Linked DNA regions of Homo sapiens: all the other regions are reported to be linked to region 1. The links are microRNA targets in miRTarBase. Many come from high-throughput screens and were not tested one by one. Region 1 holds a microRNA gene; each other region holds the end of a gene's coding sequence.
Evidence for each region. The annotated mature microRNA hsa-miR-627-3p reads UCUUUUCUUUGAGACUCACU and lies in region 1 at 2,717-2,736, shown strand. An mRNA with a match to its seed (bases 2 to 7 or 8) in the 3' UTR can be bound and repressed. Matches are read on the target gene's strand: a 7mer-m8 pairs with bases 2 to 8, a 7mer-A1 pairs with bases 2 to 7 and ends in A, and an 8mer does both.

Region 1 (7,126 bases):
TGTGTGTGACCTGCCTTTCCTTTAAGACCCCAAATCAAAGAAAATAGAATCACTCTGTTTTTCTGGATGACTAAGAACATCATCCTGGAGAAATACTATTGATCCTTTGGATAAGGAATGTAGGTGCTGACCTGTTTTTATAAATATAACTACTGCCATTCAGACAACCTTTGGCTGACACCCATTTTTTTTGACATGGGTGCCTTAGTAAGTACATCACAGCATGTGGTTGGGAATCAAGACAAATTGGGGTTGGGATCCCAACTCTGCTGCTTGCCACATGTGTGACTCTGGAAAAGTTATATATTCCCTAGGCCTCAACTTCCTCATCTATAAAATGGGGATTTGAAAAAAGGACTTACTTCAAGGGATAGTTGTGAGGATTAGTGAAATAACAGATGCGTTTAGCATTTCCTGGAACACAATACATGCTCAATAAAAGTTATCTATTTGTACCATTATCCAAGATTTTATTTTACAGAGGTCAAGAATCAAGAGAGTTTATGAAAGGAATGAGTGACCTTTATGTTATCAAAAAGCTAAGGAAGTATCTGTACATGCTTACCTTCCTTGAATGATGTAATATGGGTCTGTCAGGGTAATTATTTAAACTCTTTCTGAGCCTCTTTTTACCTAGACCAGTGCCTCCCAAAATGTGGTCCTTGAACCACCAGCATCAGCATCATCTGGGAAGTTGTTAGAAATGAAAATTCCTGGGCCTACTTTTAAACCTACTAAATCAGATGCTCCGGGGTAGAGCCTAGCATTCTGTATTTTAACAAACTCTCAAATAATTGTGATACACTAAAGTTTAAGAACCACTAGCCTAGACCATCTTTTAAAATGTACAATTTGGCTGGGCACAGTCGCTCACCCCTGTAATCCCAACACTTTGGGAAGCTGAAGGGGCATTGCTTGCGGTCAAGAGTTGGAGACCAGATTGGGCAATATTGTGAGCCCTCATCTCTATAAACATTTTTTAAAAAATAGCTGAACGTGGTGGTGCATGCCTGTATTTCTCGCCACTCAGGAGGCTGAGGTGGGAGGATCACTTGAGCTAGGGAGGTGGAGGCTGCAATGAGCCATGATCACACCACTGCTCTCTAGCCTGGGCAACAGAGTAGAACCCTATCTTAAAAAAATAAAAGTTAAAAAAAAGTGTACAATTAAATGGTTTTTAGTACATTCACAGAGTTATGCAACTATCAGCACAATAAATTTTAGAACATATTCATCACTTTCAGAAGAAACTCAGTACCCATTAGTATTTACTTTCTATTTTCCCCCAAGCCCACCAGCCCTGGGCAACCGCTAATCTTTCTACCTCTGTGGATTTGCCTACTCTGGACATTTCATATAAATGGAATCACGTGGCCTTTTGTCTGGCTTCCTTCAGTTAGCATCATGTTTTTAGGTTCATCTGTGTTGTAGCATATATCCATACTTCCTTTCTTTTCATTGTTAGCTAATATTCCGTTATATAGACATGCCACATTTTGTTTATCCGTTCATCAGTTGGTGGACATTTGGTTTGTTTCCATCTTTTAGCTATTACAGATAATACTGCTGTGAACATTTGTGTACAAGTTTTTGTGTAGAATATGTTTTCATTTCTGTTGGGTGTGTAACCAGGAGTGGAATTGCTGGGTCCCAGGGTAACTCTGTTTAGCCTTTTGAGGAGCTGCTAGACTTTTCCAAAGTGGCTCTCCCATTTTACATTCCTGCCAGCAGTGTATGAGGATTCTAATTTCTTTATATTCTCATCAACACTTGTTATTAAATATTTTCTACTAGACTATCTTTTGAGATAATGAATTCTGTAAGCTTATTATGTTACGTCATTTATTTTCCTGAAAGTAAAAGCATTTAAAGGATGCCTCTTAGCTATTATTGCTGAGGTTGGATACCTGGTTTCACATTTGTACTTCCATTTTGTGATTTTATAAACTTTCATCATATTCTTTTTAGCAGAATTTAAAAATATATATCTGAAGATATATATCTTAATAAAAGTATATATAACAAAAAATAAAAATCATAATAATTTAATCTTAAAAATACAAAGCCCTTCTATCTTTTTTATTAGTTTAACATTAAAACAATTGAGCCAGGACATTTTTATCCTCTGATATGTCTAGCCTAGTAATTATTCAATAAATGTGTTTTTAAATGGTTGATTTTCAAACATGAGTATAAACATTTCTTAGCTTTGCAAAACACCTCCTATCAAAAGCAACTCATTTTCTTGACACATTGATTTCTGATTACAAGCCCCAGCTAAAAAAATAGGGTTATACTCAAGCTGATTGACCTTTCTCAAAGCTGGTTTTTTTTTGTTTTTGTTTTTGTTTTGTTTTGTTTTTCCAGAGGAATGGCTTCTTGTGGGAACCAAACAAGGACATCTTCTTCTCTATAGGATTCGGAAGGACGTTGGTAAGTGCACATTGCTCATGCAAAAAAATAAGTTTTAATAGTCAGCTAGTATACAACTGTGAAATCAGTTATTCCTGGACCATTAAAAGAGAGATTGAAGGTTAGAGGGAGCACGGTGGGAAAATGGGGAGAAGACTTGAGAATGCCTAGGGTTTTTCTCCTCCAAATTGTATTGCCCTACCTGCATTTGGGAGGTGAGGATGAATTGCTGGTTTACTTATTACTGAATTACTTATTACTGGTAGTGAGTCTCTAAGAAAAGAGGAGGTGGTTGTTTTCCTCCTCTTTTCTTTGAGACTCACTACCAATAATAAGAAATACTACTAATGGGCATAAGCTTCCTGTATATATGGTGTGGTGGTAGGAAAAAAAATTAGGCAACATCGATTTAAAATATCTTGTTGGCTTATGAGGGGTAGAACAAGAAGAGAGGACCAGGGTTTGCCTTCATGTGCACTTCCCCCTGGCTGCGTGACCGTGAGCAAGTTCTTTCCAACATCAGTTTTCTATAAACTCTCTGCCCCACAAAGTTGTTGGGGTGGATGCAATAATAGGCTCGAAGAAACTGTGAAAACTAAAGTTCTAATCAAATGTGACTGTCAGTAATGTAGAGTAATAACTAAAGTATTTGAAATGTATTCTGTTAAAGAGTGTTTTTTATTGGGGCAGAAAGTACCTCACTGCCCTTCCTTGTTTTCGTTTCTGTGCTCTCTTTATGGAGAATAGATGTGTTTAGGTATTATGCCCTGGAGCCACTCTACAGAAATCTGCAGTTAATTTCATACCCTTCAATATAATATATATTTCTCTGGTAAATAGCTTAAGAGATAGCTTAAGATAAATAGAGCTCTCTTGTGGAACCTGGAGCAAGGGTAACACTGGGGGAAAAAGCACCTTACTAGTGCACTCGGGAAAGAGAAGATATCCTGGTCAGTTTCTGCAGCAGGGTAAGAAAAGAAACCAGAGAACAAAATAGATAATTTATTTCATTTCTAAGTTTTTCAACTGTCCTCTAAATCAGGGTCAGCAAACTTGTTCTGAAAAGGTCCAAAGAATAAATATTTTAGGCTTTGCAGTGTTGTTACTACTTAACTCTGCCTTTGTAACATGAAAGCAGCTGTAGGCAATATGTAATGAATAGGTATGGCTATGTTCCAATAAAACTTTATTTACAAAAACATGCAAAGGCCTCAGTTAGGCCCTGGAGCAGTACATTGTTGATCTTTGTTTTAATGTTTTAAATTTTTAATTCTCATGGCCTGTGAAGTGGCTCATGCCTATAATCCCAGCACTTTGGGAGACTGAAGTAGGAGGAATGATTGAGGCCAGGAGTTCGAGGCCAGCCTGGGCAACATGGCAACACCCTGTCTACAAAAAATTAGCTGGATGTGGTGGCACGTGCTTATAATTCCAGCTGCTCTGGAGGCTGAGGTGAGAGGATCGCTTGAGCCCAGGAGGTTGAGGCTGCAGTGAGCTATGATCACACCATTGCTCTCCAGCCTCAGCAACAGACTTTGTCTCAAAAAAAAATTTCTTTTTTTAGTTCTCGGAGCCAAAATATTTGCGTTCTGTGATATTTGCCTGGTCTATAATTTTAAAATTAAGCTCACATTTTAATTTTAAAGCTAAAAATGCTTATCTTATTCAGCATTCAACAATTGTTTTTTGACTCTCTGCTTTGCTTTCACATGTAAGTGGTGATCAGAAATTGAAAACAAGACTTTATAAATGAAGTCTCAACACAGTATAGACCTGAACTGGTAATATTAGTGTTAATCTGGCTTGGAACCCTGGTGGCGACTATTCCTTGCCCTATGATCATTTTATCATGTCACCTTTGACAAATTAGTTAATGTTCCTGGGCCTTGGTTTCGCCATAGGTAGATTAAATATAGACAATTAGGAAATCAAATTCTGATTTGAAACTTTTCTTCAAGAAATGCCATTTTTCCCTATACTCTTGGTGAACAGTTTAGTTCTGGCCCAGATCTGGCCTGATGTGGGCCAGAAATAGACCTGGGCCCGTGTGAATTAGTTCTAGGGTTAATTTGGTTTCCAGATTTGAGATATTTCAAGCCTAAATAGGTCTTTGGGTAGACTGTCTTTCTGAGGAAAGGGAGGGGATAATAGGGTCAAGAAAAGACTAGGGGTAGGGATCGTAGGCTCTGATCTGATCTGAGTCATTTCCCTGGAGCTCAGTTGAGCCAGTGACATTTTTATCCTCTGATATGTCTAGCCTAGTAATTATTCAATAAATGTGTTTTTAACTGGTTGATTCTAAAATATGAGTATAAACATTCCTCAATAGACATCTCTAGGCTTCATTCTGCTCCTTTATTTTTTGAGACAGGGTCTTGCTGTGTCGCCTAGGCTGGAGTGTAGTGGCGCTATCTTGGCTCACTGCAGCCTCAACCTCCTGGGTTCAAGCCATCCTCCCACCTCAGCCTCCCAGGTAGATGGGACCACAGGCACACACCACTATGCCCAACCCATTTTTGTATCTTTTTTTTTTTAGCATTACTTAGATTTTTTCTTTTTTTTTTTTTAGGTTTTTTTTTCCACTCTTTTTAATTATACTTTAAGTTCTAGGGTACAAGTGCACAACGTGCAGGTTTGTTACATATGTATACATGTGCCATGTTGGTGTGCTGCACCCATTAACTCGTCATTTACGTTAGGTATATCTCCTAATGCTTTCCCTCCCCCCTCCCCCCACCCCACGACAGGCCCCCAGTGTGTGATGTTCCCCTTCCTGTGTCCAAGTGTTCTCATTGTTCAATTCCCACCTATGAGTGAGAACATGCAGTGTTTGGTTTTTTTGTCCTTGCAATAGTTTGCTGAGAATGATGGTTTCCAGCTTCATCCATGTCCCTACAAAGGACATGAACTCATCCTTTTTTATGGCTGCATAGTATTCCATGGTGTATATGTGCCACATTTTCTTAATCCAGTCTATCATTGATGGACATTTGGGTTGGTTCCAAGTCTTTGCTCTTGTGAACAGTGCTGCATTAAACATACGTGTGCATGTGTCTTTATACTAGCATGATCTATAATCCTTTGGGTATATACTCAGTAATGGGATGGCTGGGTCAACTGGTATTTCTAGTTCTAGATCCTTGAGGAATTGCCACACTGTCTTCCACAATGGTTGAACTAGTTTACAGTCCCACCAACAGTGTAAAAGCGTTCCTGTTTCTCTACATCCTCTCCAGCACCTGTTGTTTCCTGACTTTTTAATGATCGCCATTCTAACTGGTGTGAGATGGTATCTCATTGTGGTTTTGATTTGCATTTCTCTGATGGCCAGTGATGATGATGATGAGCATTTTTTCATGTGTCTGTTGGCTGCATAAATGTCTTCTTTTGAGAAGTGTCTGTTCATATCCTTTGCCTACTTTTTGATGGGGTTGTTGGTTTTTTTCTTGTAAGTTTGATTTCTTTGTAGATTCTAGATATTAGCCCTTTGTCAGATGAGTAGATTGCAAAAATGTTCTCCCATTCTGTAGGTTGCCTGTTCACTCTGATGGTAGTTTCTTTTGCTGTGCAGAAGCTCTTTAGTTTAATTAGATCCCATTTGTCAATTTTGGCTTTTGTTGCCATTGCTTTTGGTGTTTTAGACATGAAGTCCTTGCCCATGCCTGTGTCCTGAATGGTATTGCCTAGGTTTTCTTCTAGGGTTTTTATGGTTTTAGGTCTAACATTTAAGTCTTTAATCCATCTTGAATTAATTTTTGTATAAGGTGTAAGGAAGGGATCCAGTTTCAGCTTTCTACATATGCCTAGCCAGTTTTCCGAGCACCATTTATTAAATAGGGAATCCTTTCCCCATTTCTTGTTTTTGTCAGGTTTGTCAAAGATCAGATGGTTGTAGATGTGTGGTATTATTTTTGAGGCCTCTGTTCTGTTCCATTTGTCTCTATCTCTGTTTTGGTTCCAGTACCATGCTGTTTTGGTTACTGTAGCCTTGTAGTATAGTTTGAAGTCAGGCAGCGTGACGCCTCCAGCTTTGTTCTTTTTGCTTAGGATCGACTTGGCAATGCAGGCTCTTTTTTGGTTTCATATGAACTTTAAAGTAGTTTTTTCCAATTCTGTGAAGACAGTCATTGGTAGCTTGATGAGGATGGCATTGAATCTCTAAATTACCTTGGGCAGTATGGCCATTTTCACAATATGATTCTTCCTATCCATGATCATGGAATGTTCTTCCATTTGTTTGTGTCCTCTTTTATTTCGTTGAGCAGTGGTTTGTAGTTCTCCTTGAAGAGGTTCTTCACATCCCTTGTAAGTTGGATTCCTAGGTATTTTATTCTCTTTGAAGCAATTGTGAATGGGAGTTCACTCATGATTTGGCTCTCTGTTTGTCTGTTATTGGTGTATAAGAATGCTTGTGGTTTTTGCACATTGATTTTGTATCCTGAGACTTTGCTGAAGTTGCTTATCAGCTTAAGGAGATTTTGGGCTGAGCCATTTTTGTATCTTTTGTAGTGATGGGGTTTCGCCAGATTGCCCAGGCTGGACTTGAATTCCTGGGCTCAAGTGATCTGCCCACCTCAGCCTCCCAAAGTTCCGGGACTACAGATGCGTGCCATCATGCCCAGTTAATTTTTGTACTATTTTAGAGACAGGGTTTCACCATGTTGGCCAGGCTGGTCTGGAATTCCTGACCTCAAGTGATCCGCCCGCCTCGACC
Region 2 (7,126 bases), not on the chromosome of region 1:
GAGACTTTGAAGGGGCGGTTGACCTGCTGGATAAATTGAACCATTACCTGGAAGATAAACCTAGCCCACCTCCTGTAAAAGAACTAAGGGCCAAAGTGGAGGAGCGAGTTCGACAGCTCACTGAGGTGCTAGTTTTCGAACTCTCCCCAGATCGTTCCCTGAGAGGTGGTCCGAAGGCTACTCGCAGAGCAGTTTCGCAACTGATCCGGCTGGGCCAGTGCACGAAGGCCTGTGAGCTATTTTTGAGAAACAGGGCAGCCGCTGTTCATACTGCAATTCGTCAGCTTCGCATCGAAGGTGCCACTTTACTCTATATTCATAAGCTGTGCCATGTCTTCTTTACCAGCCTTCTCGAGACTGCAAGAGAATTTGAGATCGATTTTGCAGGCACTGACAGCGGCTGCTACTCTGCCTTTGTGGTCTGGGCAAGATCAGCCATGGGCATGTTCGTGGATGCTTTTAGCAAGCAGGTGTTTGATAGTAAGGAGAGCCTCTCTACAGCAGCTGAGTGTGTAAAAGTGGCTAAGGAGCATTGCCAGCAACTGGGTGATATCGGACTGGATCTCACCTTCATCATCCATGCCCTTCTGGTGAAAGACATCCAAGGGGCCTTGCACAGTTACAAAGAAATCATCATTGAAGCCACTAAACATCGCAACTCTGAAGAGATGTGGAGGAGGATGAACTTGATGACGCCAGAAGCCCTGGGTAAGCTCAAAGAAGAGATGAAAAGTTGTGGGGTAAGTAACTTTGAGCAGTACACAGGGGATGACTGCTGGGTGAACCTAAGTTACACAGTGGTTGCTTTCACCAAACAGACCATGGGCTTCTTGGAAGAGGCCCTGAAGCTGTATTTCCCAGAGCTGCACATGGTACTTTTGGAGAGCCTGGTGGAAATCATTTTGGTTGCTGTTCAGCATGTGGATTATAGTCTTCGATGTGAGCAGGATCCAGAGAAGAAAGCTTTTATCAGACAGAATGCATCCTTTTTATATGAAACAGTCCTCCCTGTGGTGGAGAAAAGGTTTGAAGAAGGTGTGGGGAAACCTGCCAAGCAACTCCAAGATCTGAGGAATGCATCTAGACTTATTCGTGTGAATCCTGAAAGTACAACATCAGTGGTCTAATGCTTGGGTCTGTTTATATGTGTATATATGCAGAGAGAGAGCTTATATATTATTTATATTTATATTAAGTTGTATTAGCATACTCTATAGTTTCAAACACAACTTGAAAATTAAAAGTGCCCTCTTAAAAATACAAAAATCAAAAAGAGGAAAATAAGTTAAATTAAGCCCAAGTAACAAAAATACTGGAATTATTAAAACGTATAGTATGCTAGCTATCCTTTTAAATTATGCTAATTCTCTTCTTCTGAAATTATGGTCACACTATATACTATAGCATTTCGGTTTTATCCTTTGATAAAACTTTTCTTTTTTCTTTTTTTTTTTTGAGACAGGGTCTCACCCCGTCGCACAGGCTGGAGTGCAGTGGCAAAGTCTCGACTCACTGCAGCCTTGACCTCCCGGGCCCAGGTAGTCCTCCCACCTCAGCCTCCCATGTAGCAGGAACCACAGGCAGGCACCACCATACCCAGCTAATTTTTGTATTTTTTGTAGAGATGGGGTTTCGCCATGTTGCCCAGGCTAGTCTTTTCTTTCTTCTTTTTTTTTTTCCCCACAGTATATATTATACAGCAGTCATAATATCTATAAATACATAGAGTTTATGTTGTGAAGTTTCCCAGTTCACTGAAATGTTAGGTTTCCTAAAGGGTACAGTGCCGTATAAAACAACCTGCCTCATATATTTCTCCTCAAAACGTTGGACTATTTGGGAAAAGGAAAAGAGTTGGGAAAATTGGTTTTAAGGTAAGTTTTAGTCAAAAGAATTCTTTCTTGAAACTAGCTGGTTTGTGGATTCAGATACTCTGATCCTTACAGAATCCAAGAGGAAGCTTTCATAAAAACAATTCAGCAAATATTTCCAATATAATTTGAATGGCTAATTTTCAGTTGCTAATTAATTAGCAGCTTTGTAATACTTGATTTGGGAGCATTTACTTGGAAATCCTAAGGACTATAATAAAAGTTTTCAACATATTTCTAAATTGTGTGAGTTTCCAGCTGTAGCTTTTGTCTTTGTCACATTTTAAAAAATAATAAGCAAGACACATTGGGGACACTGGCAGCAGTTGCCAGGTTTTAGCTGCCACCGCTTCAGTATGAGATATAGCTGTCCCATCTTCCCCCATTCAGGGTAGGAGATATAGTGACCCAGACTTCATGCAAATGGAAAAAAAGTTTTAACTGAAATATTTATTTAGATTTCAGGGTCTAGATGGATGGGAAAGTAGAAAAACATATGCAAATCTCAGTGTTCTCACTATGACCACTCTGAGCAGAGATTTGGTTTTGTTTCCTTTTGTAACAAAGTGAAAACAGGTGAGACAATGTGCCCAAAACAAAGGGAAGAAGAGAACCTTCTGTGACTCCTAAAATGTTCCATGCTGCATTTTTGTTTCATTTTTTATTTTTCCTTGCTTTGTTTTTAAACATGAATATAATGCTTACTTCAAATTGTTTAGTAAAACAAAATAACTAAAGAAATGTGAGCTTCCCAAGGTTTCTAAACTATCGCTGTTGTATATTCTATAGCGTTCCTTATTCTTTGAGGGAAACTGTGCTTGCTGTGATCCATTTTGTCTCTAGCTTCTAGTTGTGATTCTTGTCCATAAGCACCAAATTTGATGCCCATGATTTCAAAAGGTCATTTCTTTTATCTGAATGAAAATGGTGGTACTAAGACTGTGAAAATTATGTGAAACCTAAAGTAGTTGCCAAAGTGGCTCAGGGTTGTAAAATTCATTGACTTAATTATTCATGTGCCAGATCAACCCCTTTATTTTCTCTTTAGCTGTGCATATTTAAAATATTGGAAAGTATCAGATTTACAGATTTTCTTTGACTAATTTTTTTCACATAACTTTAGGATTTTCGAAAGTTGTAACCATAACTGGATATCTTAGCTGAGCAAAGGCGGTTATAATTTGTCTTTTTAAGATCACTGGAAATTGATAAAATTTTGTGATAATTATGATTATTCTGTGCCATTTACAGTTTCTAATACTATACTGTATGAAATATGTATAAATATATGATGCTGAGTCTGTGGAATGATACTTCTGAAATCAAAATTCCTCATAAGGCATGAAGTTGTAAAAACTTGAATGTGTATAGTTAGATATTTAAATGGTTGCTTCTTCATAGAATTGTCTGCTTTTTAAAACTGGAAGTACAGGATTTTCTTCAGGTAAAATCTGTGTGTTCCAATTACAGTTGTAGCTGAAGGAAGTATGCTTTGGTGAGTCAATTAGTATGGGAACTTGACTAAAGACCCCCAGTGTTGTAACGTACCTTTGTACCCAGACAAAACAATTATGTTACATTCCTCAAAGTGGCATGGGCTTTCTTCTCTAATTCTTCTGTTTTATTAGACCCAAGACAAGTTCTAAAAATTGAATGCAATGAGAGATTGTCCAGAAATGTAATATATACTAAAATATACCACTTAAGCATTGATTGCCTTTTCTTGTTTGCTTCAAGAATATAAAACTTGTTACTTGAGCTTGGAATCATGGGCTTGATTGAATTAATTACTCTTGGGGAAAAAAGACACCTTGTGGCATTAAGTCTTGCTTTGGTTAAAGCCTTATTTCACATAATTGCTAAAAACTCATTTTTGTTTAATATACTACCTATAGTTTAATTATCGGCACTTGTATTTTGTAACTTGATATCTTACCTAGGATTGGGAATTTGGGACATGACATGTACTATAAAAGTCAGTCTATGTACATACTGCTTATTGATGTGCTGTGATATGAGGGAATCTGAAATGTTTCATAAAAATAAAGCTTAAAAATTGTCTTACACTGGATAAAAGTGATATTAAGATATTATATCTATTGCTCTTCTTTAGTTGGTATTCAATATTTTTATATTCTTGTTACTGAAATATTCTTTGAAGACCCTAGTTTTTTGTTTTATTTATGTGGGGAGGATACTTAGGAAGCTGTTTGCTAAATTAAGTAAGTGTTCTGCTTACCGTCAGAATTGTGAATAAATCAGATCTCAATTTTTTAAAATTCCCTCGAATGGAAAATTTCAGAGGTACAAAATGTGAATTTATTATAAAAAAGTAGATTTTATACCATCTGCACATCTCTAAATAAAGAAAATAAAATGTAGGCCACAAGACCTAGGAACTAAATGACAAGGCTTGGCCTTTTTTTTTTTTTTTGAGACAGAGTCTTCCCATATCGCCCAAGCTGGAGTGCAGTGGCGTGATCTCTGCTCGCTACAATCTCTGCCTCCTGGGTTCAAGCCATTCTCCTGTCTCAGCCTCCTGAGTAGCTGGGATTACAGGGGCCCGCCACCATGCCCGGCTAATTTTTTTATTTTTAGTAGAGATGGGGTTTCAACATGTTGGCCAGGCTGGTCTCGAACTCCTGATCTCAGGTGATCCACCCGCCTCGGCCTCCCAAAGTGCTGAGATTACAGGCGTGAGCCACCATGCCCGGCCAGGCTTGCCCTTTTGAAAGTAATATGTATATCCTGAGGAAACTATCACATATTTAAAAGTATTGAATGCTATGCTTCATATTGACTGTAATGTGGGAGTGCAGAAGAATTTTAATAATTTTAAACATACTTCGTCCTCTTAAGATGCTTAGAAATTGGAAAAAGTCAACAAATATAAGTGAGAGAATAATCAAATGCACAGCTGTGTACAGTGGAAATACCAAGAAGGAAGAGAGCAGTGTACTTTTAAGGAGTTTAGAAAGTTCTCATGGAATTGTTGGCATTTGAGCGGGTCCTTGAAGAATGGACAAGACTTAAATGTGCAAAGAAAATGGAAGAGTAGGACCTGAGCCCAAGGCACAGAAGTGGGAATGTGGGTGTCATATGAAGAGACCTTCCTGGATGAATTGCAGAGTTTGGAAAAGCGTAAATAAGCCACATTTGCCTACAAAGCAAGCTTCAATCCATATGCAATGTGCAGAAGAGTTAAAGTAAAAAATAAAAGTCCTCATCCCCCCAACAATCCCATTCACTAGAGGTAACTACTAGTAAGAATTTCATGTACATATTTTTCCAGAAATTGTATCATACTCTGCATACAGTTCTGCATCTTGATTTTAGTCACTTAGCAGTTCAGTGTTTTAAGACATCTCGTATCAGTACCTCTTGCTGTACCCCACTGGGTTTTTCTTCTGTGATTGGGTAGTTGTCAATCACAGTGAATGAATATATCATAATTTTGCATTTTCCAATTACTTGGTTGGCTTCAAGTTTTGTTGATTACAAAAAAAAAATTCTGAAAACCTATGCACATCCTCCTATTCGCTTATGCGAATATATCTATGGGATGTATTTTTAGAAATTGCTCTGCCAAATTACATTTTAAATTTAAGCATTACCAGTTGCTCATCAGGAGGGTTATATCATTTTTAAGTTCTCTCCAACAGTATAGGAAAATACCTGTTTACATGAATGCTTATAAACCTGTATTCATTCACTGTTTAATTAAGAGTAGCCTTGCCAAGCACAGTGGCTCAAGTCTGTAATCCCAACACTTTGGCAGGCTAAGGAGAGTGGATTGCTTAAGCCCAGGAGTTCGAGACCAGCCTGAATAGCATAGGTAGACCCCCGTCTTTACAAAAAATAGAAAAATTAGCCGGGCGTGGTGGCGCACACCTGTAAGTCCCAGCTACTCGGGAGGCTGAGGCAGGAGGATTGCTTGAGCCCAGGAGGTTGAGGCTGTAGTGAGCCATGACAGCACCACTGCACTCTAGCCTGGGGGACAGAGCGAGACCCTGTCTCAAAAAAAAGTCATCTTATTAGTAATAATATTCATTGTTACTAATCTTCTCTGTGAAAAAATAGCTTCTAGGTTGTTCTCATTTTTGTTTGTTGGTTGGTTTGTTTTTTGAGCCAGGATCTCACTGTATCGCCCAGGCTGGAGTGCGATGGTGCTATCATGCCTCATTGTAGCCTCAACCTCCCTGGCCTGGCCCAAGGGATCCTCCTGCCTGGCTAATTTTTAAATTTTTCTATACATACAGGGCAGAGGTTGTGGGGGGTGGTGTTCACTTTGTTGCCCAGGTTGATCTTGAACTCCTGGGCTCAAGCAATCTTCCCACCTCGGCCTCCCAAAGTGCTTCCATTATAGGCATGAGCCACCATGCCCAGCTTCTAGTTTTGTATGTAATTATGAGTGAGGTTGAACAACTTTCTTTTTCTATTAAGCTTCCTGTTTATATCTTTTGCCACTTTTCTCTTAGATTATATTTGTATTGTGATTTTGTGGGAGTTTATTGTATATTTAGGAAATTAACCCTTCATGTGTACTGCTGTAGTTTTTCTCAGTTTGTCATTTGTTTGTATAGCCGTTTATTTATTTTCATAGTATGGTAAATTTTAACCCGTTATGAAGCCAGATTTATTTGGGTTTTTTTCTTTATGACTTCTGTTTTCGGTTAGGCTTAAGAAGGCCTTACCCACTCTCAGATTCTAAAAATATGTTTTTCTTCTAGTAATTTATTATATTTTAATATTTGAAATTTGCTTCATCTATTATTCATTTTAAAGTAAGTGGTGATGGCCGGGCACAGTGGGTCACGCCAGTAATCCCAGCACTTTGGGAGGCGGAGGCGGGCGGATCACCTGAGGCCAGGCTGGCCAACATGGTGAAACCCCATCTCTACAAAAGTACAAAAATTAGCTGGGCATGATGGCGGGTGCCTGTAATCCCAGCTACTTGGGAGGCTGAGGCGGAGGCTGCAGCAAGCCGAGATCGTGCCATTGCACTCCAGCCTGGGCGAGACAGTGAGACTCCATCTCAAAAAAAAAATGTAAGTGATGATGTCAGAATGCAATTTCCCCACAAATAATTAGCAAATTTTCACAACAATTTTGAATCATCCTTTTCCCCCACTGATTTGAAATGCCACTGATATTTCTATTTCTGTTCAGTACCAAGCTATTTTGGTTAACTGTAGTTTCGAAATTTAATAACTGGTAGGGCTGGTCTCATTCTTCTGTCTCAGGTTTTTCCAAAG
Region 3 (7,126 bases), not on the chromosome of region 1:
TGCTGCAAAGTACCAAAGACTTCTGACTTTTCTAAAATGCACATACAAAGGAACTAAAGCACATAAACAGGAAGTGTGTTCATCTGTTGTATCTCGTACTGTCACCCAGGCTGGAGTGCAGTGGCGCGATCGTAGCTCATTGCAGCCTTAAACTCCTGGACTCAAGTGATCTGGCCACCTTGGCCTCCCGAAATGCTGGGATTACAGGTGTGAGCCACTGTGCTGGCCTTGAAAGATAATGTAATTATATGTTAATATAAATAACACTTTAATAAAAAATAACTATTTTCCAAAAAAATTAGTGAGAAGAGTGGCATTGCTTTTTATTTTTGCAAACCTGGCTTGATAGATAATAGCTGTATTCTCCTATCTGCTTCTGCATTCAAGCTGTTGCAATTTCATGTCTAATAGCCTCTGGAAAGCTCCACTGTATACTTATGAAAGAATGATTGTGAAACAGACTAATAACATTCTTAGTATTATTATTAAAATAGTTTTGACATCGCAAACACTTTGAAAGGGTCCTGAGGACTCTGAGGTATCCAAACCACACTTTGAAAACAGTTGGTTTAGACCAACTTTATTATATTTTATTATTCTTATCCCCTATATATCTAATTTTTGTGAATTTTATCTGTCACAGGCTAAAAAAACCCCATGAAAATGTCCTACCTTTTGTTGATTTTTGTTCTTTTGAGGTGTTTTGCTTTATGTAATTGTGATTGTGTATAATGTGGTACATACATATCCAAGACAATTTTATCGTTTATATTTTTTTTTTAGTGGCTTAAAACAGTAATAACTGGTTTCTTTTTCTCACAAATCTGCAATTTGAGCAGAGCTCAGGAGGTAGGAGGAGGGCTTGTCTCTGCTCCACACAGCATCAGCTGGGGCAGCTCACCTGAGAGTTGGAGGATCCATTCCCAGTGTGCACACTCACCTGGCTGGCAGGCTCATGCTGGCTATCAGCTGGTAGTGCAGATGGGGCCAAGTGTCAGGGCCTCAGTTCCTCTCCACATGGGCCTCTTCATGTGGGCTTCTCCATGTAGCCCAGGCTTCCTCACAGCAATGTGGCTGATTTCCCAGGGGGAATATCAGAAGAAAGAAAATGTTAGTCCATTCTGAATTATGCTATTGCTTTGAATTCAATTCTAATATTATTGAGCTAGTACCTACTATAATCATAGAAAAAATCAAATATAGTTGTATTATTAGTTTCTCTCTTTCTGGTATGTTCTTGGCACATACAGCTTAATCTTAAATCATGGTCAAGTATACTTGGAACAGCGGTAAGAACAGCCAGGTTCTTATAACCTCAGATACAGGCCTTCTGGTTAGTAATGCACTCCTCTGGCCTGGCCTTTCCATGTACTTCTGCTGCACCATGGAGCTCCCAACCCTGGCATGGTACTTTCATGCTGCACCATTCACCTGAACACATTTCCTCCTGCCCAAGTCTACTTCTGCTCAACTATGGTTTTATACTTTCCTGACCCCACCCTGGCAACTAATCATGAATCTAGGTTACTTCCTTTGCTTCATCAGGCTTACTGGTATTAATCTCACATGGTTTCTAGAATCATGAAAGTTTAGTGGAAGAGACCCAGGCTCTTTCTCTAGTAATGACATTTCCTGAGCCCAGTGGAACGTTTTCCTGTGTACTGGGCATCTCTGCTACATTTACTGCCCTCCCTTGATACCAAGTATGTCTTCTCCTTACCCTCTTGCTATAAAGCCCACCCCTGAATTTCCAGGAGATGAGAAGTGCCAAGGTTCATGGGCTGTGAATTGTTTTCCCAGGTCCAGCTCCAAACTTAATGTTCAAAGAGGCTAAACCGTGGATCCATCAATGTGGATCAGAGTCCCTGATAGGTTATCTTGCAGAATTCTAGGTGAATATGGTAGCTGTATTAGATCTGATATAAGGCACCAAACGGGGCATAAAACAGCATGCTTAGGGTAGTGTCCAGGATTCATATATCCAACCTTCACCCATATAACCAAATTCTAATGCCCATTATTGACCATGGATCCATACACACCTAGATCAGAGACCAGGGTGATATCAAGAACATCTGGCTCTCTTCCCACTAGAATGCCCTCAAGAGAGTAAATATGCTTACCGAGTGCAATACGTAAGAGGCTAAAAGAACCATGCTGAGTACACAGTGCATGGGAAACACACATAAATCAGGCCCATTCCCCAGGTCAGAGCCAAGCATAATACCCATATAAGATCAGAGCTAGGGCCAGAACTGGAAAGGTGGTAACACCTGCGCATGAAAGGACTGGTGATCCTTGGCAGCCCTATATGGGAAGATCAGCTAGGAAGTGAAAGCTGGCCAACAGCACAATTCTGTGCTAGCAGGAGGGGGCCGAATGGAGTTTGCATTCTGATAGGCATGTTCCTACGGTTCCTGGTGAGGCTGCTCGGGAGTAAGGACTCTGGTATACGCCTCATTTTGAAGAGGAGAGTGAATACTCAATTCTACAGTCTTAACCACAGTTCAATACTTAATGTTTTCATCCTTCTTAATAGTCTATAAGCCCTTCTATGGCACTCATTTGCAAGAGGGACTGGGCAAGTGAGGAAAACAGGCTCAGGTGCATTAGGTGATTTGTCCAGCTGAAAAGTGATAAAACCACACTAGACCTTCAGATCCCAATCCAGTGCTTTACCCACTCTTCCAAGATGGATTATGTGGGTAGGAGAAGCTAGAGTCCAGAAGAAACAAAAGCCTAAGCTGAGCCATTGGAGGCTAACAGGCCTTAGAGGGTAAATAAGAGAAGGTAAGGACAGGGGGGAAATGCAGAGGAAGGACTCTACTGGCAAACATGGGAGCTAGTGGTAAGACTGATCTGAGTATCCCATTTGTGTTGGGATGTAGAAATCAGGTCGGAGAAGTGGGAGTAGGGCCAGATGAAAATTTGATGTGATATGGTGTGTAATAAGGCATCACTGTGGTTTCATGAGAACTAGAGTAACAGTGAAAACAGGGCTTTAGGAACATTAAGCTGGCACTGAGACAGGAATCAGAGTGGAAGAAAGAGTCTTGAAGCAGGTAACCAGTAAACTGTTGTGGTAATTCAGGTGTAAGGTGCTAAGTCTTGGGCTAAGATGGTGGCAGTGGAAATGGTGAGGAAAGAATAAATCCACAAGACAATAAGAAGACAATAAGAAGAAAGACTCTTCAGGATTTAGTAACGGATTAGCTACAGGAACAAAAAGTACAGAGTTCAAAGCTACTTTAAGTTCTCAGGATCTAGAAGAATGAAGGTCTCACTAACACAGAAGACTAATGCCTTTATTTTGGAGAGATAAACAGATTACACTGTTCATCTGACCCTCTTGATAGTACAAGTGGGTCAGACAGTTTAAACTTTGAGATTATATCCCAGCTGAATGGCTAGAGGTCAATCTCCTACAGAAAATATATTTTGAAGCATAGGGTTGAAAGGGAAATAAGTTATATATTTGCTATAATCATAACAACCAACATATAGCTTTCTTTCATATTATTTTATTAGTACTTATAAAAACAATTTATGAAAATATTTTCCTTTTCAAGATATAGAAACTACGCTCTGCAAAATATACATACCCATAGTTGTTACAATACATATCCTTGTATACACCTTGGACATTGTGTTTAAGAATCACACCCTGTAAGGGCTAGAAGAAACATTTTCTCTAACCTCAGTTATATAGTGTGACATTCAAGTACTTAAACTACATTGTTCAAACAAAACATGTCTCTAGTGTATGGGCCTAAAGGGATTTAACTTTCTAGGTGCCACTGATTCTTTCACTGTGCAAGGTAAAGAACTGGAAGAGGGTTCCCTGAGAGTTAATTCACCTTAGGTAGCTCAAGTAGTGGTTTACTGTCCATACTTTATCATGGAACTAAGGAAGGGAGGAAGGCCATGGAAATTCAACTTGGGCAGGTCTCCTCTCTATCATCCCTATCTACGAAGCATGGCCCCTATGTGATGATTTCTGAGACCTCTAGAGTTCTCAAATGCTCCTGATTCTGTAATTATCTAAGATATTTGCAGAATGATGTTTTTGCAAGTCTAAATTCCAATACTGTAAATCAGGTGGAACAGAGATGACTCACCTACATAGACTTCATTTAGGGTTTGTCAGGTGTCAAGGCAATTGATAAAATCAGCAAGCCAAAAATTCCCCCATTGGAACTATTGGAAAAGATTCTTTCTCACTAAGGCACGAACCCCAGAAGCCAAGTTCCTCTTTGCTTTGGAAAAATTATGATGAGAGGGTAGGAAAGAGCCTATAACCTTTCAACTCTGCAGGCTTAAGATAATGACAGATGCTTCATCTGACACAGTAAGAGCTGGAAGCTATTGCAACCTCACCAATAAAGGGCTCATTACAACAAGTAACCATTTATGTATACTCCCTAAGTCCTGACTAACCTCCCAAGCTTTTCTAGATATTAAATTCTCTCTAACTGCAAAGTATTGGTCTGATGAAGTTCCAGGTGTAAAACGTGCTGTTTGAATTCATGGCGTTAGTGTCATGGTGCTGCATCATGGTATGGCACTGACATTTAACATCATGCTGATAAACTAGAATTCATAGTGATTTTATTTCAATGCAGGAAACTATGAAAGTCAATCAAACATGGATTCACAAGTCTTTACATTTAATGTATAACATAAAGCATTATTACACATAATTTCATAACTATAAAAATAAGTTTAATACATTACCATATTTTAAAAAATTACTTTAAAAACATATACTCCAAAGTCTTCTATTTCATTTAGAGAATAATGGAGGTATCTATTAGGGTGAATCATATGAAACGATGGTTTTTCTAAGTTAAAATAGTAAAATCTTGGCAATTACATATGGTTCAACCTAATAAGATCCTGAGAAAATTTTATTTGGCATCACACTATAAATTCAAGGGGAATTTATAGAAAATCACATTTCTAGTGAAGAGAAAACACTTCAGGATGGAAACGTGCACACTGGTCATGCCAAGATTTCTCTTTGTGATTTAGAGATCTGAAATCTTGGAATGTTAAGAAAAATTTAGTGCAGTTTCAAAAAAAAGTGAGGACAATTAAAATTATAGTATGCTAGCTGCAGTTGCTAATGCCACTGAAACAAAACTACTAGCCAAATTTGGCAATTTAAGTGTTTTAGAGGTGACATAATAAAAATTCCAGCATTAAAATGAAAAGGCACAAATATGAGTTACAAGTATGATAATCATTTATAAAATCCTTGAAAATAAGGCCAATTCATTTGTATTATTAACACCATTAAGCAGGCACCTATTCTAAGCTTCAACTTCATCCTCCTAAATAGAATAAGGTTGCAAATGAATTATCAACATAATACTAATTATAGCAGCATTATCAATTGTCTGGAAGGCATAGTTTATAAAGATCATGGTAGTAGAACCAAGTTTCTTAGGCTCTACACTGCTAAAAGAATATCTAAAATAGCCTCCCCACCCATATCCCATCAGTACCAAAAATACATTTTAAAAATTACATAAATATTACTAGCCATAAAATGTTTTGGTTTTTCTTCAAACAATGAGCTCTCCTCTCACCAACTTGACCCCAACAACAACAACAAAAAAAACCAAAACCAAAACCAAAGCTACCAAAAAATTGTTACACCAAACAGACTAGCTATTCTTAACTAAAGACATACTATATTCAAAAATGGTACTTTAGGCAATTTATTAAATACAACCAATGAAGAAAATGCAGATTTTCCAGATGTGTGCGTATGCTGTATGTGAATTAGGTGATGGTGTACTTGAAAAAAATATGTATTTCAGCAATGATGCTTCATTTGGAACTTTGGTACCATTTACGAATGGCCGCTCCAACATTACTGGCTACTACGCAGAGAGCACCACCCACTGTCCACCACGTTGGCACATTATTAAAGAAAATAATCTGAAAGATAAAAGCAAAGACCACATCCATTGTCTTCATTATTGCTACTGGCCCTGCTTTTTCTATTTGAAGTGCTTTTGTGATAAATATCTGACCCCCCAAACCAAAGAGCCCAATGAATATGAGAAATAGCCTGTCCAACCCACAGTAAGGCAGACTCCACTCTCCTAATACAGAGAGGATGATGACACTTTCAACGAGGCCAAGTACTACATAATACCAAATGCTCAGAAAGTAGTCCACAGATTTTCCCATTTTTCTTAGGATAACTAGAGTCGATGCAGCAAATACGGCACTTCCAATTGCTGCGAATGTTCCCTTAAGGTGGCCTGAATAGCTTTCTTCCATCCCCGAAGTGTCGGAACCAAACAAAAATGGTGGTCTCACGATAAGGATCACTCCAGTGATTGTGAACACGGTGAAAAGAGCATCCCAAGGGCTATATTTTTCCTTGAGACATATCCAAGCAAATATGGACGTAAACACTGGACTGCTAAACGTGATAACTGTGGCATCAGCGAGGGACATTGTCTGGTAAGCATAGTATATAAGCATCATGGCGGTAGAACCAAGGACTCCTCTGAGAATGAGGAAAATTCGTTGACCTTTTGGGCCTATAAACCCAGTTCTGTAAATTCAAATGAAGAAATGCATATTAAATGAAATTAATATTTGTTTTTAAATTACAATTTGTAATTAAACATTATTTTAAAAGTACTAAATATCAAAAAATGAGGGAATAGTAAATTAATTATAATATCCACAAATGAATATTATATACTTTTTAAAAATAGTATTTTCTAAGTATAGTTAATGACAGTAAAGTGTTCACAGTAAAAGCAAAACCAGTGCAAGTGAATTACATGCATAGTAAAATTATAATTCAATTAATATAGATATTTATCCCACGTATATGTATATATATGCTTGCAAAAAGGACAAAAAGGAAAATAAACTAAATGTTAATCATGTTTATATCTTAATAGATAAACTCATAGGTAATTTTCTTTCTTTATATTTATTTTCTCCAAATTTTCTATAAACATATCACTTTTATGATAAATACAATGTCAAGATTCAGCTGCCCTGTGTAAGGAAACTTAGACCCAGCTAATGCTCATTCTCAATCTCATGAATTTTTCTATAAAACTTGAAACTGCTAAAATTTATTTTAGTCATT
Region 4 (7,126 bases), not on the chromosome of region 1:
CTCGTGATCCGCCCGCCTCGGCCTCCCAAAGTGCTGGGATTACAGGCGTGAGCCACCGCGCCCGGCCTACAAGAGGTTTCTAAATGCACCAATCAGTGCTTTGTAAAAACACACCAATAGGTTCTCTGTGGCTAGCTGGATGTTTGTAAAATGGACCAATTCGCACTCTGTAAAATAGACCAATCAGCACTCTTTAAAATGGACCAATCAGCACTTTTAAAATGGGCCAATCACCACTCTTTAAAATGGACCAATCAGCACTCTTTAAAATGGACCAATCTGCAGGACATGGGCAGGGACAAATACAGGAATAAAAGCTGGCCACCCCAACCAGCAGTGGCAACCCACTCAGGTCCTCTTCCCTGCTGTGGAAGTTTTGTTCTTTTGATCTTCACAATAAATCTTGCTGCTGCCCACTCTTTGGATCCCTGCCGCCTTTAAGAGCTGTAACACTCACTGTGAAGGTCTGCAGGAAGTCAGCGAGACCACAAACCCACCGGAAGGAACAAACTCAGGACACACCAGAATGATGGTAGAGGTGATAAGGCATGAGACAGAAATAATAGGAAAGACTTTGGATCCAAATTTCTGATCAGGCAATTTACACCAAAATTCCTCCTCTCCACTTAGAAAAGGTGTGCTCTGCGGGACTATTGGCTCAGGGGAGACTCAGGAACTTCTTTTTCTTCTTCCTGCAGTGCTCTCATCTGAGCCCTTGAAAGAGGGGAAAAGAAACTGTTAGTAGAGCCAGGTTGAAAACAACACTCTCCTCTGTCTTTTGCAGGATTCCTGAGCTGAAATGCAGATGACCACATTCAAGGAAGAACTTTCTGCCCCGGCTTTGCAGGATGAAAAGCTTTCCTGCTTGGCAGTTATTCTTCCACAAGAGAGGGCTTTCTCAGGACCTGGTTGCTACTGGTTCGGCAACTGCAGAAAATGTCCTCCCTTGTGGCTTCCTCAGCTCCTGCCCTTGGCCTGAAGTCCCAGCATTGATGGCAGCGCCTCATCTTCAACTTTTGTGCTCCCCTTTGCCTAAACCGTATGGCCTCCCGTGCATCTGTATTCACCCTGTATGACAAACACATTACATTATTAAATGTTTCTCAAAGATGGAGTTAAATATCATCTGGTCCATTTGGCTCCAAAGACAGAAAATGAAAAGAAAAAGGGAAGATTATTTTCCAATAGAATAATGATTTTCATGTATATGTCATGAGTGTGTGAGGTAATGCGTATGTTAAATAGCTGGATTTAGACATTCCACACTATAGCCATATATCAAAACTTCATGCTGTACAACATAAATATACTATACAATTTTTACTTGTCAATTAAAAAAGTAATCCTAACATTTAAAAAGGCAATGCATAAAAACTGAGAACAGACTATAACAACTGAAACAAACTGGGCAAACATGAGATGAGAAACCAGCCAGCAAGTCAATCAGAACTCTTTCTTCATCTCGTCTACAATATTTTGTATTTATAACTGTAAATTAGTGTATAGTGTTTCACTCCAGAGACTTCAATAATACAGTGTTATCAAAGGACTTGTACAGATTTCAGAGAAAGACACATTTAGAAGATGGAGAGTTCTCCGTTATGTTCTATCTGAGAGTCAGTATGAAATGTCAAATCTAAAAGTACATAATTCAGAGGTCTATTTCAAATTAATAATCATTTGAGCATAATTTCTCCACTGTCAGAGACGACTGTTATTTTATTTTCAATCAAATTAAAAGTTGTTTTTATGCATATCTTATTTTTAGTTATATGTTACTTGTACATACGTAGCAGTACAAGTGCATATAAATCCTGTAAGAGTATAAATCCTATAGAAATATATTAAGCTGATAATTATGTCTGTTCTGTTTGATCACAGAGTTGCAACAAATAGGCCTCATTTCCTAAGTTGAGGAAATGATTTTCTCATTTTATATGAGACTTGTGGTGTGGAATTTCAAGGTAGAACCAAAATGTGTGGAATGAATATTTCAATGAAGATGCGTTCTGCTGCTAATAGCAGGAAATCCCATCTAGTGGCTTTATTTTTCTTTAACCCGTTATCTCACATAGCCGATAGATCCAAGGCTGGGCATCTCCAGAGTTGCTCAACTCAGCAGGCCAGTGGCATCACCAGCGACCCTGGAACTTCATAGCTCATCTCTCTATCACACACAGTATGTCAGCTTTCCTGAGATGGTAGGGTGACCCCTGCAGCAGCTTTAGGTTTGTTATTCTTTCACAACAACTCCCAAAGGCAGGAAAAGGATACTCCTTTCTCCTGTGTGCCTTTATAAGGAGCAACTAAACTGTTTCCAGAGTGTTCCCAGTACCCACTTTCTCACACATTGGAATGACCGTGGGATCACATGGGCTCAGACAAGCCAGGATTCAACCTTTGCAGAGTGGGCCTGAGGCACATGGGAAGAAAAGGAGCAAAATCATGTATTTTAAAAAATAAAGAAATGGTGGATGGAGTAGCAGAGATTGATTTCCGGGTAGGGAAATGATAGATTGTGGTACTATCAGGTTGTAAGTATTTGAGTTAACTTCCACATGAAAGCCTATAGATTCCTGATAGGCACCCTCAATTCAGGGTTTTGGGTCTTTATATGTATACATATATATATATACACACACACACACGTATATATGTACATATATACATATATGTATATATAGGTGTGTATACATACACACACATAGAGTTATTAAATGTCAGCCATTAACTCAATTACAATAAAAAAAAGCAAGCAAACAGGATTGATTGTTTGTACAACTCAGTTAAGTATGCTGACATGTTATTTTATGAGGTAAATATATTTTCCAGGGAAAATATTGAAAAAAAGTAGAATAAGGAATGATTAGCTCTATAAGGTGCTAAAACATACCATACATTTACTTTTAAAAATGCATTTGTTACTGATTTTTTAAAATTATATATGCTAGCAAAACAGAGTCTAGAAATAGAAACAGAAAGAGCTGAGATTTAGTTTCAGTTTTTGGTAAGTTGAATTCCAAATTCATTTCTTTCACTAAATAGATCCTGGATAAATAAAACTTGAAACATAAAGAGAAAATATAAAGTTCATAAGACAGATGCTATTTCTAATACTATCATCATCATTATAATTATGTTTGAAGACAAATAGACTTTCTAATTCCTTATGTGTTGCTGGTGGGAGTGTATGAGTCTACAAATACCTGGTAATTTGGCAATTTCTTAAAAAGTTTAACATATGTTTGCCCTATGACCTAGCAATTTCACTCCTTGGAATCTACCTAAGAGACATAAAAACATATGTCCTCACATAGATATGTGTTCAAGGGTTCAGAACAGCCTTAGCCATAGCAGGCCAAAACTGAAAACAATCCAGATATCCTTCAACTAGTAAATAGATAAACAAAATTCAACTACATCCAGGCAAGGCAATATCATTCAACAATAAAAGGGGACAAAAATAGACTTATCTGGCAGGGGAGATACCATAAACATGAGGGTAGTTTTCCCAAGGCAAATTTCAACCCTTGCACCCTAGATGATGAGATTACTTAATGGGTACAATGCATGTGATTTGGGTAATGGATACTGTAGAAACACTAACGTCACCACTATGCAATCTATGCATGTACCAAAACTACACTTGTACCTTTTGCATTTGCACAAATGAAAAAAGACAAAAAGAAATGAAAAGAAAACAAAATGATGATACATACTACAAAACTAGTGAACTTCAATAGTGTTAACTAAGTGAAGGAAATTGGATACAAAAGATTACATGTTGTATGATTTCATTTACTTGAAATATCTAGAAAAGGTAAATTTATAGACACAAAAAGCAGATCATTGGGTGCCTAGGGTTTGGGGTCTCAGTGGGACTTAACTATAAATAGAGAAATTTGGGACATGACAGAAATGTTCTAAAACTAAATTGTTGTGATAATTGCACAAATCTATTAATTTACTCAAATTATTCAATTTTACATGTACAATGAGTGAATTTTGTAGTATGAAAGTTATGCTTTAGTAAATCTGTTAAAATAATCCTTTTTAAAAAAATAAGACTTCATAAGCAAGACAAAATCCAGAAGACACAAATGAAAAAATATTTGAAGAAAATTACTGATTTCTTTGCATGAAGAAAATAACAAAATTAAAAGAAGTATATGATGCTCAGGAAAAATTTTGATCACATAAGGCAGACAATGGGCTTTCTTATGAAAAATTGTTAACTAATCAATCAATAAATTCATGGAAATGCCATAGACAATTGGGCAAAGGATATAGACTCACTATAGAAGAGAATATCCTAATAGTCGATAAATATATATATATTTGCTCAAACTCACCAATGAAGAGAAAAAGCCAAATTCGAACAGCAATGTAATAAACTATTTCTCCTACTCCAAAATTGGCAAGTACAATAGTTTGTTTTAACCTCAAGGATTTAGAAGATTCTAAGGGAATAGACTCTCCCATATTATTAGGATTTTAAGTTATAACAGTGTAGTAGTATCTATTAAAACTCAAAATACAATTGTTACGCGCTTGATGAAAACAACAAAAATCCCGTTGTAAACATCCGTCTTAAAGAACAATCCTACATGAGCCCAACGAGACATAAAATTGGTCGTTTGTTGAGCCACGGTTTGGAATAACAAAAACATTTCCAAATTCAAAAAGAAAAACTGATTAATTTGTCTTGATTATAAAAATTTTGTACATCCTAAAAACTATGGAGCATGTGAAGTGACAGCACACTGCAGGATGACATTTGGTGCTGTGTGGGGCACTGTGAGCATATATTGGTGTAACCCTTTGAGTAGTTTGAATAATACAGTATTTCCACTCTAGGTTGTTACAGTCTCGGTGAATTTTTCCTCATATGTCCATGATGACATATAAAAAATGTAACAGGGGAGAAAAGAAACACTATCTACATTTAGATAGAGAAAAGGTAAACTGTGGTATAACCACAGAAAGGAATAATATTCAGGGCTTTAAGTAAATTATGTAGGACTATCAACATGGATTGGAAAAAAATCATAAACCATAATGCCAGTTAGGAGGTGGAAAATTACGAGAATTGTCACTATTACTATAAGAGCAAACAGATATATAGACTAAACTAAATGGATAAACTGGAAAATAATCTTATTTTAAAAATTTTAACCAGCTGTGGATCAAAAAGTATAAAAATTCCAAATTCCAGAGATGAACAAATTCCACATAGGCGAGCAGGGTCAAGTGTCCACTCTTATTCTTTGGTCATCTACTGAATCTTAACATGGGAAGAAGATTGAGCCTGGCTGAGAAAGGGAGATTGTGAGGGAGTAAGGATAAACCAGCTGAGTTGTCAATAGCCCTGTGGGTTTGTGTGATGCATTACAATCTATAGAGGCCCCCTGAATAATATATATCTACTTTGCCCTGTCAGCTGATTCTCCTTCCAGAACTTTTTCTGACTTCATGCTGGTGCTGTGGGAACTAGGGAGGTAGATGGAAGACAACAAATATCTCTGTAGCTTCGTGCAAAGATCAGGAAGGAAATCAAGATAGGAACAATACTTTCCACCTTCTTGACTTAGTTGGCATTTATAATTAACATAAATTGACAACATCTGATAACTACAGAATATTTACTTATTTACGTTGCACAAAGATAATCCATGAAATAGAACAAATACTGTGACTATAAAACTAGTCTCAATTACTTTCACAAGAATAAAATCATACAGAGTATATTCTCTGAACACAATCTTATGAAATTACAAATTAGTAGGATTGAGAAAACGGCCTAAATTTTTGGAAGTAAAATAATACATTTCTAAATAATCTATGGCTTGTCAAAGAGGAAATCAGAAGGAAATTAGAAAATAATTTTAAATAAAATAATACTAAAATGAATTTTAAAAATTTTCGAGATGCAACCAAGGCAGTCCTTAGAGAAAAATATTTAGTTTTAAATGCCTGTATTATAAAAGGATAAATATGTAAAAATCAAAGGGGTAAAATTTTAACTTAATAATAAAAAGAAGCAAATTTAAGTTGAAAAAAGTAGAAGAAAAAGCAAAGAGGTGAAGAAATTGATAAAATTATTTTCTTGGTTTTGTTTTCTATTTGTTTATGATAGAGCATAATTATGTTAGTCCATTCCTACATTTCCAGAAAGAAATACCTGAGGCTGGGTAATTCATAAAGAAAGGAGGTTTCACTGGCTCAGGGTTCTGCAGGCTCTACAGGAGGTGTGGTGCTGGCAATTGCTTCTGGTGAGGGCCTCAGGAAAATAACAATCATGGGGGAAGGAAAGGGGGTCCTGCATATCACATGGTGAGAGCAGGAGCACAGAGAAAGTTGGGGAACAGTTGCAGTCCTTTAAAAAACCAGGTCTCATGTGAACTGAGTGAGAACTCACTCATTACAGCTAGGATGGCACCAAGCCATTGATGAAGGATCTGCCCCCCGACCAAAATACCTCTCACCAGGCCTCACCTCCAACAATGGAGGTTACATTTTAACATGAGATCTGGAGGGCACAAGCATCCAAACTATATCAGTAACATAATTGGTTTAATGTATACTGACTTTGTAATCAGCAACATTATTTAAATTCACTTATTAAATCTGTGAGCTTGTCTATTGTTTTTATTTTCTAAGTACCTGATTATGTCAAGAGTAAATAATGACCATTTTACCTGGATGCAATTATTATCTCTTTGATATATTTTTCTTGCCATTATTATTGCCTAACTCCTCTAGTACTCCTGATATGAAGGAGATAGTTTTCAATATTTCACTGCTGAGACTAATGTGTGCAATTGGGTAGCTATCATTTCTCAGATTGGAGAAATATCTTTTTAATACAAGTTTGAAAACAGGTTTTTTCAAAATTAAGGCCAAGTGCTCAATTCTGTCAAATCGTATTTCACGACTCTATCCAGGTGGTTGCATGTGTATTCTCCTTCCTTCAGTTAATGTCGTGAATCACACTAATGGATTCTCAAATGCTCAAACAACCTTGCATTTCTGGAATAACCTCCACTTGGTCATGATGTAGTAGCCATCTTTTATATCACTGAATTCACTTGGCTAATGTTTTCTTAAGAACTTACCTTATAAGAGT

Region 2: the mRNA of EXOC8 is a reported target of hsa-miR-627-3p. Seed matches in the 3' UTR shown: 7mer-A1 at 1,847-1,853.
Region 3: the mRNA of SLC35G1 is a reported target of hsa-miR-627-3p. Seed matches in the 3' UTR shown: 7mer-m8 at 4,446-4,452.
Region 4: miRTarBase lists HLA-DRB1 as a target of hsa-miR-627-3p. The part of its 3' UTR that is shown has no 7-base or 8-base seed match.

Annotation. Positions count from the first base shown.
Region 1 is chr15:42,195,203-42,202,328 of GRCh38, reverse strand. It overlaps MIR627 (microRNA 627), which reads left to right and starts at 2,663; the gene lies at 2,663-2,759. It overlaps VPS39 (VPS39 subunit of HOPS complex), which reads left to right. Exons shown (of 25, transcript NM_015289.5): 2 at 2,368-2,433.
Region 2 is chr1:231,329,569-231,336,694 of GRCh38, reverse strand. It overlaps EXOC8 (exocyst complex component 8), which reads left to right. Exons shown (of 1, transcript NM_175876.5): 1 at 1-3,942. The coding sequence ends at 1,127. Among named protein-coding and RNA genes, the nearest start is that of EXOC8, 4.7 kb to the left of the region's middle.
Region 3 is chr10:93,900,200-93,907,325 of GRCh38, reverse strand. It overlaps SLC35G1 (solute carrier family 35 member G1), which reads right to left. Exons shown (of 3, transcript NM_001134658.3): 3 at 3,502-6,574. The coding sequence ends at 5,836. Among named protein-coding and RNA genes, the nearest start is that of SLC35G1, 9.8 kb to the right of the region's middle.
Region 4 is chr6:32,572,763-32,579,888 of GRCh38, reverse strand. It overlaps HLA-DRB1 (major histocompatibility complex, class II, DR beta 1), which reads left to right. Exons shown (of 6, transcript NM_002124.4): 6 at 785-1,114. The coding sequence ends at 798. It also overlaps the pseudogene RNU1-152P. Among named protein-coding and RNA genes, the nearest start is that of HLA-DRB1, 14 kb to the left of the region's middle.